2 separate regions of the Homo sapiens genome follow, and region 2 is linked to region 1. Evidence: fine-mapped QTL for protein levels in blood plasma. A gene starts in region 1. The other region holds a variant in brackets. All regions are shown on one strand. Distances are between the middles of the regions. Region 1 holds the start of FGFBP1 (fibroblast growth factor binding protein 1). Region 2 has its middle 40 kb from the start of TAPT1-AS1.

Evidence for each region. PIP is the posterior inclusion probability: the model's chance that the variant is causal. Protein levels are from antibody-based Olink assays in UK Biobank. Linkage for the fine-mapping came from a reference panel and not from the study's own genotypes, which makes the PIPs less certain.
Region 2: its variant is fine-mapped to the plasma level of the FGFBP1 protein (UK Biobank, PIP above 0.99).

Annotation. Positions count from the first base shown.
Region 1 is chr4:15,934,530-15,942,873 of GRCh38, forward strand. FGFBP1 (fibroblast growth factor binding protein 1) reads right to left here and starts at 4,211. Exons shown (of 3, transcript NM_005130.5): 1 at 4,158-4,211; 2 at 3,722-3,942; 3 at 1,048-2,123. The coding sequence starts at 2,103. The coding sequence ends at 1,399.
Region 2 is chr4:16,262,160-16,270,503 of GRCh38, forward strand. No RefSeq gene overlaps it. Among named protein-coding and RNA genes, the nearest start is that of TAPT1-AS1, 40 kb to the left of the region's middle. The variant A/G (reference allele first, on the strand shown) is at 4,646.

The sequences.
Region 1 (8,344 bases):
TGATGATCATGATGACATCCAAATGTCACTCTGAGGCTGTGGCACTGTGGATTGGCCTCTGACGTCCTCAGTGTGCATCCCAGTAGGTTGGTGAATGTAAAAGGCTTTCCTTCCCCCCCACCTGCCATTCCTCCCTGCCACCATCAGACATGCTAAAGAACAGTGCTTTCGTCAGCTTCTGCTCCTCCTTTCCCTGGTTGTGGAATTGTGACAAGGCATTGGAGACAGTTCATCCTCTCTCCCCCACTCTTAAAATACAACTTTCAGATCCTTCATACTAACATATAAATGAATAATGGCAGTCTCATCGCTGCATCCCATCCGATCCCAGACACCTGACCTCTCCCAGAATCTGAAACTTCCCATCTATTCACTTTCATTCATGTTATCAAATGCCTAAAGTGCCTCCACTTTGCCCCATTTTATTCCCACAGATACTCTTTCCAAAATCCAGCTCCACTATTCCCTCCCCTGTTACACTCAAGCCCAGATCTTACAGCAGTTTCTGCCTTCTCTCTCTGGTTTTCCTTGTAGCCCTCTCCCCCTTCCTTTATAGCCCTTATCTTGGGCCACTGTACTTAACTAGGCCTTTCTTCTCCAAGAATGAAGAATGAAGGAATGAAACTCATTTCTTCTCCAGAATTGAGCTTTGCAAGGCCGGGGTCTTTCGGGTGGGGGAGGGAATGGGCAGCTCTGACATGAATCAGTAGCGGAGGTTCCTCAACCCTGTAGACTCAGCTGTCAGAGCTCCTGGGTTCCAATCCTACCGGCCCTCTTACCATCTATGAGTCCCTGACAAATGATTTAATCACATTATATACCAGGTGTCCCACCTGAAAACAGGGATCCTAGTTATTATACTTCAATAAACACCAAACACCACTGACCAATGGATACAATTATAAAGAAGGATTCCAGAAAGAGATAACTTGCGAAGGGTGGGGAACTGGAAGTTCCTGTTTAGATTGTTTTTCCATTGATATATGGGGACTACTTAATGAGTTTATTTGGGACCAGACACAGAGAAAACCAAGCAATGTTTGAATGTATTTCTGAAAAACACCCAGAGTTTTATTACCATTAATTCAGCAGAAAGTTCGTTGCACTGAAATTATCACTCTGGCTCATTCAGCTCAAAGACTCTTCGCTGCTCAAACACATAGCTGTGTGGGCCATGGAAATACATGCTGCAGGAAACAGCCTCTGAACATCGCATCCAAGAAAAATAAGGCAAATTCCAAAACACAAAAGCAAAAAATACAAAACTTGTTTAAATATTTCGTTGCACTCACTAAGCACAAAAGTTCATATTTTGGGGGGACTGTAGAGAGCTTTAAAGTATACAGAGGGACTTACGACATGACATCTCTTAAGGGAACCCGTTCTCTTTTGACCTCATTAGCATGACGTGTCCTGCACTATGCTGAGGAAGAATGTGCAGAGAGAGCTCCAAGTCTCTCCACAGAACTCCAGGGCAGTCTTCCTCTGGTTTGCCATATCTGGGTCCTCCACACACTCGGGAGCTTTGGTGGCCATGGTCTGGGTCACTGCTAGGCTAGAGGGGGTGGTCTCTTTGCCTTTGATGTGCTCCCTGGGGGACATCTCTGTTTTCTCCTTCCTGGGCTTTGTGTTCCCAAATAGAGTGGAGCTGACTAGCTTAAGACTGGATTCTGGAAAATCCTTTCTGCACACTCTGGTTTTCACAGCTGTCTTGGAATATCTACAGATGTCTTTCTGTGAGCGCAGATTCCGGGCAACTTGTTTCCAATAGACTCTCTCATCCTTGAGCTTTAGGCATGAGGTTGGATTGCCAGCAAAGACACAGGAAAATTCATGGTCCAATTGAGTGCACTCAACCTTGAGAGAGATGCCCTCCTCCTGCTCAGTAGCAGCCCATCTGCAGTTGGCTTGGTCTTTGGTGACAAACTTGCCTTTGTTCCCGGGCCTGCTTTTCTGCTTAATCTGGGTGTTGCCCAGAGTGTCCTTTTGTTCTGAGACCACTTTGCTGTGAAGTCCATTCTTCACTTTTTTTTTCCCCTCCACCAGGAGCACCTGAGCAGCCAGTAGGAGGAAGGAGAGCAGGGTGAGGCTACAGATCTTCATGGCTGCAGCTGGGCGTTCACCTGTTTGACAAAAGGCAAGTGAGTCAGTGGCAGGCAGCAGTTCAGCTGTGCAGGACTACACGCTGGCCTCCCCCTACCCTGACAGGTGCCTACATGATTTCAGAGTAGACCAAGAACGCTTCTGGCTCCTGGAGTCACTAGACAAACAGCCTGTCTACTCACATTTCCACTTGACTTGAGTCTTGAGTGTCACAAAAGTACCACTCTTTGGAGCCTCACGAACTCTCATTTATCATTTATTCACTCATTAACTCCTGCATCTGCTCACTCCTCACTCTTTCATTCACTCATTCAACAAGCATTTACTGAGCACCTACTATATGCCCCCCACCAGACTAGGTGTTGAAGAAATCACCATGATTGAGAAAGCCTCAGATTTGAAAGAGCTTAGAGACCACTCTTTGGGAGAATTTAAATAGCATTGATCAGGGAATCTATCCCGTCATCTCTGTTTCTGATATGAAACAAGTTACTGCTCCAAACTTTCAGCTCCAAAGGGCTGGATTTCTATCTCATGACTCCATATGGACACAGATGCCCAAAATGAGAAAAGACATGACAGATGCCCAAAATGAGAAAGGATGTGGTAAGCATCATGAAAGGTGATGTTGACCCAGAGTTGAACATGCCTGGGGTTTGGGTGGGGTGGGTGGGGTTGTGGGGGTGGGGGAGCTTTTTGTGGGGAAGTAAGAGTTTAAGGAAAGGTGTGAGGTGGGGTGGTTGTCTGATTTGCCTGGGCAAAGTGAATCAGGGTGGAGAGAGGTGAATTTCAACCAGATAGTTCACACTACAAGATCGAAGACAAGGATCATGAGAAATCATTGAATCAATAGGATGAACACCAACGTCACACTGAACTGCATGAATCTGATCATGTGTACAATAAAAACCCATGCTTAACAGAAGAAGAGAAGTCAGTTTCTATATGACACCTCCTGTGTGCTAAGTACTGGTCTAGGGTTTGATTCCCACCTTGTGAAATCCACACAAGAGCTCTTCCAGGTAGCTATTAATATGTCATCCCAGGTGACAGCTCTGACTCTTAAGGCTCAGACAGGTAAGTAAATTGCTCAGGATCTCATAGTGGGCAAGTTCAAAGCTGGTATGGGTAGCCAGATCAATCTCCTTATTCCTTTCTGTCACCCCTGGTTGATCACTTTTTGCTTTTCACATTTACTCTGCCCTTTAAAAACATTGCCAAAGAATAAGAAAAACAACTATGAACAATGACAATTTAGTTTCATATAACACATAATGATAAGATGATTTGTATTATTTGTGCTCCATTTAAAACAAAACACAGAATTTTTTATAAAAAGAGGCAGACCCAGGAAATGGTCCTGATCTGATTTCTACCCTAGAAGTTGGCCATCTTCTAGGGTTAAGAAGGAGAAAGACAATCACAAAAGGGCAGAGAACAGCAATAAATGGTGAAGAGGAGACTGGATATGCCAGAAAAACACCCAGTCATTTCTCACGGCCCTGGGGCTCAGCCCCCACCTGCCCATGATGGAATGCAGGCCCAAGGAACTCCAGGCCCTTGGTGGAGTGAGAAGTGGCAGCAGGTAATAAAGCTGTTAAAGGAGCGAGGCTCTTACCTTGTTCTGAGCACACGGATCCAGTGCAATCCCAGGCAGTGCGAGTGAATTGCAGGCTGCAGCTGTGTCAGGTAGAGTGCAAGGGGGGTAGACTATTCAACAGGAGCCAGGCTGACTGGGTTTTTATAACACTCACTGGGTTTTTACAACACTGTGGCACGTTACTCACAGCTCCTCCCAGCCACGCCCCTCCGAGGGAGCCGGTTCCTGCAGGGAAAGTGCTGGATGTAATCCAGTGAAAAGGGGGGTTACCTGCATGCCATCAAACGCTTCCTCTAGGCCCTTCCCTGTCCACCCTGTGGCCAGGATAGGAGGACAACTCAGCCTCACAGTGACCCTCCTTGATGGGGAGAGGACCCCAGCAGTGATGTCTATGGAGGAGTAAAATAACTATAATGACATGATCCGAGCTGCCAAACTACTGAGCCCATTTTACCTGAGTTCTCCTTTTCCCTCATCACATCCGCTCTAGTAGGGAGTGCAATGATTCCTCCCCTTTTACAAAAGCAGGAATTGGTTCTGGAGATATGTAAGAGCTTGTCCAAGTTCACAGAGGCAGGAAAAGGAACATCTCAAAATTAAAAGTGAGATTCTCTACATCCATGGTCTGATCTCTTCCTGCCTGCCACTCTCAATAAATCTTTGTTGAATGGGTGACTGAAGTTGCCGAAGTTTTCGTAGTGTCTGAGTTCCTTTTTCCATCTGAAGTTACTACATAAGCAGAGGATACCCTAATTCTAGAGGCAGGGAAATTTACATTAAAAATTCCCTCTTTTTTATCAGGGAATTCTACCAGGCTCTGAGAGGCTGGTAAAGAGGGAATTTTTAATATAAGATTACTGTTGTAAATACTTACCTTCAGGTCTCATTCAGAGAGCTCAGGCTGCCCTGCCTGCTACAGGCACAGTCCCACACCAGAATGACCCAGGTGGAATCCTGGCCACAGCATGTGTTTAGCTGAGTGCTATGCCCAAACCACTTAGCCTCTCCCATCATCCATTTGCAGTGTGCTGACAATAACAACGTCTCCTTTATAGCTGCATACTAAATTTTTACTGGGCTAAGCTGTTAACATAAAGTGGAGCAGAATCGTTTTGCCTCATGACAGGGTCTTAAGTTGTATACTTTGAAAACAGACATTTGTTATTTACATATGCAGCATTTAAAAAGAAACTCACTTCTACAGGGAAGATGTGGCCCTCATTATATATTATCACCTCACCTTTCATAGATTTTCAGAAGAAGAAATTGTTCACTTTTCCTTAATTCAGCCATAAGAAAACTATTGTTTAGTGTGATATTAAATGGCAACTGACTTTTGGGTTTGAGATAAGGCAATAGGGAGTGATGGGGACTGTGGCAAACTAGAGAGTCTCTGCCTCCATAGAGGTCAACACTCATCTCCAATTGACTGAGAAAATGCAGGGATTAGGCTCAGTATTGTCACACTGTCTGATTTTTAAAATGACATCCCCAAATCCAGATGTGTTTATATGAAATTGGTTGGCAGCTAATTAAAATTTTCTAAAAATAAAGCTGTAGCTCAACACTATGCAGGCCAAAACTTGTAACTGTGTTTGGATTTTATGAACGATCCACCTGTTTGAGAATTCCGTGGTCATAGCTATAGATGTTGACCAATTTACTCAGAGGCTCAGTCTCTGCATGAATCTGTTGGAAGAAGCCATTTCTGAAGCTGTGTGCCTCTCTCCTAAAATTGCCTCACCCAGGGGTCCGTCCTCACTATCCTCACAAACACCCCGCTGAGGCCCTGACCTCCACGAACAGGCTCTCTCATGCGGTATTTTGGAGGATTATTTGGACATAGGCAAGGCAAAGCTGCTTTGCTCAACAAGGGGAGTCTCCTACAAAATGGAAAATTCTACTTGATCCTTGGGAGGCAGGCAGATTCTTTCTGGAGGCAGATTGCAGTTGGAACACAAAACATATTTACAAGGAAACATGTGGACTCCGGGGTCTTTCTGGGAAGTGCTTCTCTGAGCTTTGCCAGGTAACACTGCACATTCCCCACTGGCTCCTTGTGGCCCTTCCCCTTCCTGTGACTCCCATCCCAGCGTCTGCTTTGCTCTTTCCCTTCTAGACTCAGCAGCACAGCATCAGAGCAGGCTGTGGGGCAGTCACCTCCTTGGCTCATCCTGCCCTTCCAACCTCATTTCCAGGTACTCACACGCAGACACATAAATACACATACACACTGACACACATACAAAGACACACACAAACACACACTGACACACTCAAACACACACAAACACACTCAAAGACACCACACTCATAGACACACAGAGACACACACATACTGACACCTAGACACATTCACACACATACTCATAGGCACACACACACAGAATCACACACAGTGACACTGACACACACACAGAGACAGACACACACACACATGCACACACACACTGCAATCTGGCCACACTGAAACCCTGTCCCACCATTTGCAGATACTCCATGCATGCGCCCACTTCCTGCCTTTGCCTCTGCTGTTCCCTGCACTTGGGATCCCCTTCCCTTCCTTCTCTGCCTGGCACACACCGCCTCATCCTTCAAGGCCAGGCTCCAATGCGAGCCCCTCTCTGTTGGTGTCATTGGCTCCTGACGCCCTGCATGCCACCCACATCTTTAAGAATGTCCACGGGGAGAAATGGCACACTTCCTCCAATGAGCTTACAGCGTGCCAGGCACTGTGCTAAGGCTGTTTCCCAAGCTTTCTTCGTATCTCCATGAACTAAGGAAACGATGTCCTTTTCCAGTGGCTCTGGGGAGACTGCAGAGGACATGGAGCCCCAGCCACGCAGTGCATAGCAGGTTCCAGTAACTTCAGGCCCCTCCACCTCCCCATGCTCCCAGCACTGAGGGGCTCTGTAATTCTTGGGGATGAGTACATAAAGGCCCATTGCACAAGAACCCCAGGAGGAAAGTCGGCCCAGGTCCTCATGGGACAGATGTGGAGGCAAGGCTTAGGGGGACTAAGCACAGTGTCTGACACACAATTAGAGAAGAATTATCTGGAGGCCGCTGCTATCATTCTAAACACAAATGAGGCAGTGTACGCATACACTGATAAATTGTGGAATTCTCCTCTCTTTGCCCCTTCATACCTTCCCTTTAAATTTTTTTTTAAAGTTTTAGAATAATTTTAGGTTTACAGAGAATTGCAAAGATAGTTATCATTCCAATTCTCACCTGGGTTCCCTATTTACCTGTTACATTACTATGGTACGTTTGTCACAACTGACAAACATTGATACATTATTGTCAATTGAAGTCCATACTTTATTCAGACTTGCTTAGGATTTACCTGTTGTTCTAGTTTTTATTATTATTATTATTATTATTGACAGACTTTATTTTTTAGAGTAGTTTTATGCTCATAGCACAATTGAGTGGAAAGTATCAAAAGTCCCATATACCCCTCCCCACACGCAGGCACAGTCTCCCCTACCTTCAACATCATGAACCAGGGTAGTACATTTGCTGTAAGTAATAAACCTACATTAACATGTCATTATCACCCAATGTCCATCATTTCCATTAGGTTCACTCTAAGTGCTGTACATTCTTTGGGTTTTGAGAAATGTATAATGACATGCATAATATCAATTAACTAAGAAAGGTATAATGACGGTACCCACCACTATGGTATCATACAGAATAGTTTAGCTGCCCTAAAAATTCTCTGTGTTCTGCCTACTTACCACTCCATCCCCTACAACCCCAGGCAATGCTCATCCTTTTGCTGTCTCCTCAGTTTTATCTTTTTAAGAATTTCAAATAGTTGGAATCACACAATATGTAACCTTTTATATTGACTTTTTTACCTAGTAATATGCACTTAAGGTTTCTCTATGTTTTTCATAACTTGATAGCACATTTCTCTTAAGTGCTGATAAAATTCCAAAGATTGGATATATCCAAGTCCCTTTATTCATTCACCTACTACTAAAATTCCATTGATTGGATGTACCCGAGTTCATTTGTTCATTCATCTAGGACATTTTGGATGCCTCTAAATTTTGACAGTGATGAATAGAGCTGCTATAAACATGCATGTGCAGGTTTGGTGTAGAATTAAATTTTCAGCTCCTAATGTTCTTTTTCTGTCCAGGATCCCAACATGACACCAGGTTGCATTTAGTGATCGTGACTTTTTGGGTTCTTCTTGGCTATGGCTGTTTCTCAGATGTTGCTTGTTTTTGATGACTATGGCAGTTTGCAGAAGAATTGGTTAGGTGTTTTGAGAATGTCCTTAATTTGGAAATTGTCTGGCATGTTCTGGTTAGATTGGGATCATGTTATTCTTCTCATGATCACACAAAACTTAAATGATGAATACTTTCTTTGGGATTGTGAAAGGAAGTCTGAACACAATTGGTAAAAACACACTGGCTAAGGCTGGTAATTGAATGCATGTCTGGTCACCAGCTGGGGATTTGAAGTTCAAAAGCTGATTTTACTCTCATGCCTGTTACTACCACATAGCTTCTTGACCTAGAGGCCTGGCCCTACTTATGCAGTCACCAGAGATTATTCATATAATGGGTGCAATTTGGTTCTGAGGTAAGTCTTAACTGTGCCAAACTTATTGCCAGG
Region 2 (8,344 bases), 330 kb after region 1:
TATATATATATACACACACACACACAATACTCTTCATTGCTATGTTTGGACTAGTGCAGCAGTCAGGATGACAGAAAGAAAAGCAGATGTACAAAAATGCAGAAAAATAAAGTGTGAAGTGTTTGTAGGTGGAGAGATAGAATTCTTTGCTATTTGTATTGAATCCTTAATATATTCTAGTGCAGAAAGCATGAAGCATGGCTACCGGAAGCACACGTGTCACACATCAAAGGGAAGCTGCAGAAAACAGCAGCGTTGGTGCAATTACTCTTTCTTATATTTCCCCTCCCCACACTGCTGGGCCCACTAATTTGATTATCTTTATTGTGGGATAATTTGTATACTTCCCCCCCTTCTTTTAGATGCACAGTTCGATAAGTTTCAAAATATATATATATATATTCACTTATGTAATTGCCAGCCCAATCAAGACATAAGTTTGATTCCATCACCCTAAAAAGTTACCTCATGCCCCTTTGCATTCAAAGTCCCCCATCTCCAATCTCAAGAAACCATAGATCTGCTTGCTCTTAATCTCTTAATATAGACTAGTTGTGCTTGTTCGAATGCAGAAAGCCACAATAGGGTTTTCTTTTTTTTTTTTTTTTTTTTTTTTTTTGAGACAGAGTCTCTCTCTGTCATCCAGGCTGGAGAGTGCAATGGTGCGATCTCAGCTCACTGCCACCTCTGCCTTCCGAGTTCAAGCGATTCCCCTGCCTCAGCCTCCTGAGTAATTGGGATTACAGGCGCCTGCCACCACGTCATGATGATTTTTGTATTTTCAGTAGAGATGGGTTTTCGCTATGTTGCCAGGCTGGTCTCGAACTCCTGACCTCAAGTGATCCACCCGCCTCAGCCTCCCAGAGTGCTGGGATTACAGGTGTGAGCTGCTGCGCCCAGGCGCCATATTAGTTTTGACTGTTTATATGAATAGTATCAGATAGTATACACTCTTTTGTGTCCGGACTCTTCAACAAAGCATTTTTGAGATTCATTCATGTTGTTATCAGTAATTTGTTCCTTTTTATTTCTGAGTGGTAGTCTATTTATAAATATACCACAATCTGTTTATCCAATCAAACCACACATTTGGGTTGTTTCCAATGGTTGGCTGTTATGAACAAAGCTACTATGGAGATTCATGTGCATATACATATGCTTTGATTTCTTCTGGGTATATACTGAATAGTGAGATGGTAAATATACATTTAACTTTATAAGAAATTGTCAGATGGTTTTTCACCAGCAATGTTGCTTCTTACCTTCATTAATACTAGATATTGCCAGTCTATTAAATTTTATCCATTCTAAACTATAAGTGCAGTTATATTTTATTTTGGTTTAAATTTGCATTGGTCTAAAGACTAAAGATGTTGCCTATCTTTTCATGAGTTTATTAGCCAATAAAGCATCCAAGTCTTTTGTCCATTTTTTACTGGATGTTTGTTTGTCTTCTTGTTATTGAGTTGGAAGAATTCTTTATATATTCTGAATACAAGTGTTTTCTCATATATATGGATTGTGAACATTTTCTCACAATCTGTGGCTTGTCTTTGCATTTTCTTAATAGTGCCTTTTAGAAAGGACAAGTTTTGATAAGGTCAAATCTATCAATTTTTCTTTTATGGTGTGTCCTTTCTATTCTATCTAAGAAATCTTTGCCTGTCCCCAAAGTTGTGAGGATTTTCTTTTGTGCTTTTTAATGTAAATTGTTTTCCGCCTTGTAGAAGCTTTGTAGTTATGGCTTTTTCACTTAGGTCTTACCCATTTTAAATGAATTTTAATGTGTGGTGTGAATTAAAAATTGAGTTTTTTTTTTTGCGTATGGATAGTTCGTTTTTTGCATATGGATAGTTAGTTTTTCAACACCATTTACTAAAAAGACTACTGTATTTCCATTTGTTTATTTTGGCATTTTCAGCAAAAATTAATGGGCCGTATATGTTTGCATATTTCTAAACTCTTCATTGTCTTGTCTTCCACTGATGTGTATGTCTCTCTTTGTATCTCTGTCATACTGTCTTAGTTACTGCAGCTTTCAAATAAGTTTCGAAATGAGGTAGTTTAAGTTCTTAAACTTTATTCTTTTTTTGTTTCAGAATAGTTTTGGCAATTCTATGTCATTTGGATTTGCAAATTATTGAATTAACTTGTCAATCTTTACCAAAAATACTTGCTGGAAATTTGATTGGGTAGAATTGACATCTTAATAATATTGAGTCTTCCAATCTATGAAAGTGACTCTCTATCAACTTAGCTCTTCCTTAATTTATCTCAGTTTTCTGTAAAAAAGTTCAAATTTGAATATGGACAATTCTGCATACACACACGCGCACACACACACACACACACACACACACACAGAGTTCAGGCCAGGCAAAACATGTTCATGCCCTGAATTTGTAGAATGCTACCTATGGCCTTAAATATTTCAGTTGCATTGGTATGTTTTTTTCTGCGTCAAAAATTTTGGCATTCTTTTCTAGATCACTAATTGCCAAATAAAATCCTGACCTTGAGAAAGACTTAATTGTAACTAATTGTTGGTATCTTTTAAAACTTCTTTTGGCTTAGAGGTGAGTTTTCATTTCCTTTATCTAAATATTAATGAAGAAAAGATGTCAAAGAGAATCCTAACCCCTCTAGCCATTAGTTCCATAATTTTTACTTAAAATAGAATGTGTGAATGTGTGGAGAAAAAAAGTCCTCTAAAGGACTTTAGAGTTATGCTGAAAAAGGACTAGAACTCTTTCTATTATTTTAGAATCTTTGTGAGGCTGACATTTGCTATTAAAGTAGCTTGTTACAGTTTCGTTATTTATAACCTTATAATGTCATTATTTGTTATTACATGCTGCCACCTAGTGAAATTCATAGGCTTGACGATAAAGAAGCAGGAGAGCTGTGCCTGGGATCTCAGATTTGTGCTTTTTGTTTCTGAATTTTGATAAGTATCGGGATTTTCCCAAATTATGTAGCACTTTAGGGTGAAAACACTGGTATAGGTAAGATTTCCTAGGAAAAGCTCTCTATAATATCTATATGTTTAGTCTTTTTTCCTTAGGAGAAAGTTACTTTGTTAGATTTTTGGAGGACCAAGATAAAATTCAAAGGGATATTATGTATTAAACATGTTTTAGCCGTACTTACACCTGCTTTGTTTTGAAAATTGTCATTTTCCCCAGATATGTGAAAGTTTAGGAAAAAGGGGAATTTTCTGGAAAAAAAAAGTCATCATTAGTTTGATTTTTTTTAAAGAAAGTTGCTCCTGCTCTACCAGGCTGCAATCTAATAAATATTTCCTATTATTCATGGCTTTTCCTGCCATTCCCCATCACCAAGCCTTCTTGTGCCTAATTCTGAGGATTTGTCTAATTTCTCAGTGAAGCACTTAGGATTTGAAATTCATAATATGTTAAAAACAAGATCACTTACTACAATTAGATAGATTCATAGCATTTCCCTTAGCTAGCCATGACCTCAAACATTAAAAACATGTACCTCCCTTACTTTATAGAAGAAACATACACCCAGACAGGCCAAGTAGATTTACCCGGTCTCCGAGCTTCTTCATGGCAGAGCTGAGCTTAGGCTGAAGTGTCTTGATAGCCATCGAATGTGCTAGATGCTGGGATGTGCTCCTTGTCCTCGGTGAGAGAGCGGGATAAGACTTACCTGGTGTGGAGAGGAGCTGCAGTATGGTAGGAGGAGCAGGATTAGCTGCTCAGAACAGGGCACTTCTGCTTAGCAGCATCTGCAGATGTCAGCAGCCCATGAAGAAGGGCTCATCAGCAAAGTCTTGGCTCCCCTGTCCCTGCCCAGCACATGCAGGGCAAGGAGAGACAAGACAGAGCTTACAGGGCATGCTTCTGCTTTCTCTCGCTGAGGGCTGGCCTAAGCAAAGGGGTCCTGAGCTTGCAGGCTGGCAGCCCAAGCCATGCTCACTGCCTCCAGGAAATGAGTTTTCTATGCAAGCCCTCCTCCCCAAAAAGTTGTGATAGCAATATTAAAAGTAGCATTATTATTGGCCTGGCGTGGTGGCTCACACCTGTAATCCTTTGGGAGGCCAAGGCGGGCAGATCACCTGAGGTCAGAGTTCAAGATGAGCCTGGCCAACATGGCCAAACCCCATTTCTACTAAAAATACAAAAAAAAAAAAAAAATTAGCCAGGGGTGGGGGCACACACCTGTAATCCCAGTTACTTGGGAGGCTGAGGCAGGAGACTTGTTTGAACTTGAGAGGTAAAGGTGGCAATGAGCAGAGATGGCACCACTGCACTCCAGCTTGGGTGACAGAGCCAGACTCCATGTCAAAAACCAAAAAAGTAGCATTATTATTAATATTAATTATCAATATTAGCTTGATACTACCTTTTTCATAGCAGCAAAAGCAATGTTAGGGATAAGAGAGTGACTATATAACAATAAAATAAAAACAGGAAGTTAAAATAGTCTGACCCCACCTGCGGCTAAGAACATCGTCTTTCAAAAAGCTGAAGTAAATACCTAAAGAATTTCATGGGTATATTCTTACTAAATATGGGAGAATTTATCATATGTTCTCAAAATTTGATAAAACAATTTGTTTAAGGATTTAGAAAATTTGAGCAATACAATAAGATGAACATAATAGAGCCCTGATCCC[A/G]TTAGTTAGAAAATACACATATTACTGAATGACACACAAAAAAATCTGAGCCACAAAAAAGTTATATTACCTAAAAATTAATATGCTGTAGGCCCTGTTGTTTGACTGAAATGCAATTTAAACTAGCAATTGATACTAAAAACAATCCCCATAGTTTTGGAATTTAAAAAATTCATAGCTATCAATTAATAATGTATATCAAGAAGAAATTATAATAAAAATTACAAAATATTAAGAAGAGAATAACAACGAAACACTACATATAAAAGATAATGGGATTTAGCTATTGCAATACTTTAGATTTATGGCTTTAATACATTTATTAGACAAAAGAAGATATAAAATTACAAAAGAAATTATTTAGTCTGAGAAGTTAGGAAAAGAATGGCAGAGTAACCTTAAAGCAAGAGAAAAAGGGAATAATGAAAATAAAAGCAGAAATTAATTAAATGGGAGGCAAAAAAATAGACCATCAGTGAACATTAAAACACTTCTTTGAAGAGGCTAACAAAACAGACAAACTTACAGCAATGATAATTGATATTAAGCATTTATTACTGGCAAATGATTATTAACATTAGGAATGAAAAAGGAATCACAACCAGAGACAGAAGATATTACAGATATTTCCAACTTTATGCCAAAAAGTTTGCAAATAGTTCAGTAAGCTTGTAGAAAAACGTAGAGAACCAGAAATGATTTAAGAAAATATGGAAAATCTGAAAAGTCCTGTTAACACTAGAGAAATTGAATTTGTCTTCAAAAACAGACACACACACACACACACACACACACACACACGCTGTCACTCACCTGGATCAGACAACTTTCAACACTAAGCCCATCAAATTGTGAAGAAAGATTCTTCACTAGCTTATGCAGACTGTTCCAGTGACTAGAGAAAGACAAAGTTCTTAAGTTCATTTTATAAGGCTGATCTCCCCTTGAAAACAAAACAAGGACAATATGAGAAATGAAAACAGATGAATCTTCCTTAAGAATATTTATTTGTAGAATTCAAAATAAAGCATTAATACATACAGTCAGCAATTTATATATGTGAACAAGATTTGGTAGTTGAGAAAGGAGAAATTATAAAAAATTGGGTGTTAATTTGAACTAGCTTAAGTTTAGCAACATTGCTGAAGAAATGGTCACTGAGACTGCCAAGATGGTGTTAGGAGCTCGGTGTCAAAATTGTGGCAGGAGACCTATACCAACCTGTTGTCACTGAAACCCACTGGGCTCTGCCTTGTAAGTGCTGCAGGTGTCTCCATGGAGCCTCATGCTGTGGGTCACTAATCCAGAAGGGCCTTGAGAATGGGCCTCCTCTATTGTTTTCCGCCCTCATTTCAGGGACTGTTTCCCTGCACAGGTAGGGAATGACCTCCCTGGAGCCTGTGTCTTCGCAGGAGAGTCCCAACTGTAGCCGTGTTTCTGAACAGCCCTGGCTTTTATTGTAACAGGGAAACAGCAAACGAACTAACATAACTAACTCCATTTTTATTTAAGGAGCATTTACCCATTCCTGCACCTAGGCTAGGATAATTTTAGAGCACTGAGATAATATGCAAAAACAGCAGTCACGGAGTTTCTGTAACTAACTCTGGAATTAGAGGGAAAGTAGGTAAACAATTAACTGTACTTTGTTAAAGATATACGGGTACACTGTGACCTGACTGACGACAAAGAAGTTCCCAACCTCCTCCAACCCTCACTGGTGCTCAGATGTCTGCAGTCATTTGTCACCTCTTGATCACAACTCCCTCTTCTTCCCCCTGCCCTTAACATGAAAAGAACCTGAAATTTGTACCAAGTTAAGATGATACTTTAGGATGTTAGTCCACCATCTTCTTGGTTTGCTGATTCTCCAAATAAACCTGCTTTTCCTCCCACCAACCCTTGTCTCTGGAGTTTAGGCTTCCCAGCGGTGAGCAGCAGAACCACTCATCTATTCCCAAGCCTCTTCTCACTCATTGAGCTGCACTTTGTGTCCATACTGGCTTCAGAGACAATCATCTGTCTCTGTCTCTGAGGCTGTAGGAACTGAAGCAGCTTTCATCTAAGAGCCTGACTGGTTTGGCTCAGAGGCCTCCTAAGGCAGCATCACTGGTGAGCCAGTATCCCTAAAAAGTAGTTACTACTGGAGGACTGTACCACTACTTGTGTTCACCATAGGACTTGGTCACTTGGACCATCTTTTGGGATCATAACAGGATCATCAATGCCTGCTTCTACTCAAACACTGTTTCTTTGATTCACACATACATTGAAATACACCTGTGCCTTGATGATATCTACCACCACTACCCCTCAACCAAGACATCTGTCAGCACTGGGGAGTCCTGAATAAAAAGCACAGCATCAGTTGGCACTGGGATGGGAGCCCATGGGCTTTTTGATTTCCTGCTCTTATTGGCAGTTGGGAGCTAAATTTTCTCACTCTCAATTATCTTCAAATCCTGAACAGTGCAGAGGGTTAAACCTTACTTAATAAGGCATTGGTTGGACCTTCAGCTACCCCATAGATTCAGTTTGCTGGGAACTGATTCAAGTTAACATGTGTCAGGGGCTATGATGAATGGACTGACTCTGGATACCTTTGGAGAGCTTAAGAAAGCACTACAGACAGGACTGGGGAGCAACCCACCCAAGCCTTGGCAAAGGACCAAGAGGCGGTGGTGGTAGTAGCAGCACTCACTGATCAAGACCTTTAGGAGAAGTGAGATGGGACATAGAGCCAAGAAAATTTTCTGGGACTGAGGTTTCCTTGGAAGCCATCTGATACCTTGTCAAGGCAGCTAAGGAGACTTAGAGTCTTTCCAGGCAAGCACTTGGAGTTGTTCCACAGGACTTGGTTTCCCCAAGCCAGTGAGGCTCACAGGGGCAAAGATTCATAGTTCCTCACCTCTGTGGTTACCTGCAGCACAAGGCTTGGGTGACCAGAAGGAAGAATGGTCACACACTGAGCCTACATATTCTAATCATTATTTTCAATGGGATTTTGTAACTAAATCCCTTTTTTGCTGGAACAAGGGCAATCAAACCTATGTATGGCAGATTCTAAATAAAATTCTAAAGGAGAAATTCTGACAAAAAAAACAACCCTTGAATAATGGCAACATCATGAGAATATTTGTAGCCCCAGGGTGACTACTTTGGATGCTATACAATTACCTGTATACGGATGTCAGGTAAGTTTATTGAATCATTATTTTAAAAATCTTATTTGCTTACTCACAGAGCCTATTTTTTCAGAAGTCTTAATAATCACATTTTACATGCTTACAAATGCTTGCTGGTGTCAGGCTCTGCTCTATGAATTCCACATGTACAGCTCATTCATTCTTGTAGCAGTCCCAGGAGGAATGGCTTCTTGCTTTCTCCATTTCACTTTTAAGCAATTTGCCCAAGGTTATACAACTATTCAGTGGAGGAAGTGAGGTTTAAACCCGCAAGGCCTGGCTCCGGAGCTTGGTTCTTAACCACTACCTCCACTGCATCTGATTATGTCATCTACTCACAGGATATTTTCCAATTTAAAATGACCGCAAGCAATCCTTAGAAACAGCCCCAATTTGCCAGATAATCATGACTGTCTTCCCTCCTATCAGGGGAAGCCATGTGGATCTGGCTTAAATTTCTTAGGAGAGGTGTATCAGTTAGGGTTCCTCTTTGGAAAGCCACAAAAATGAACTC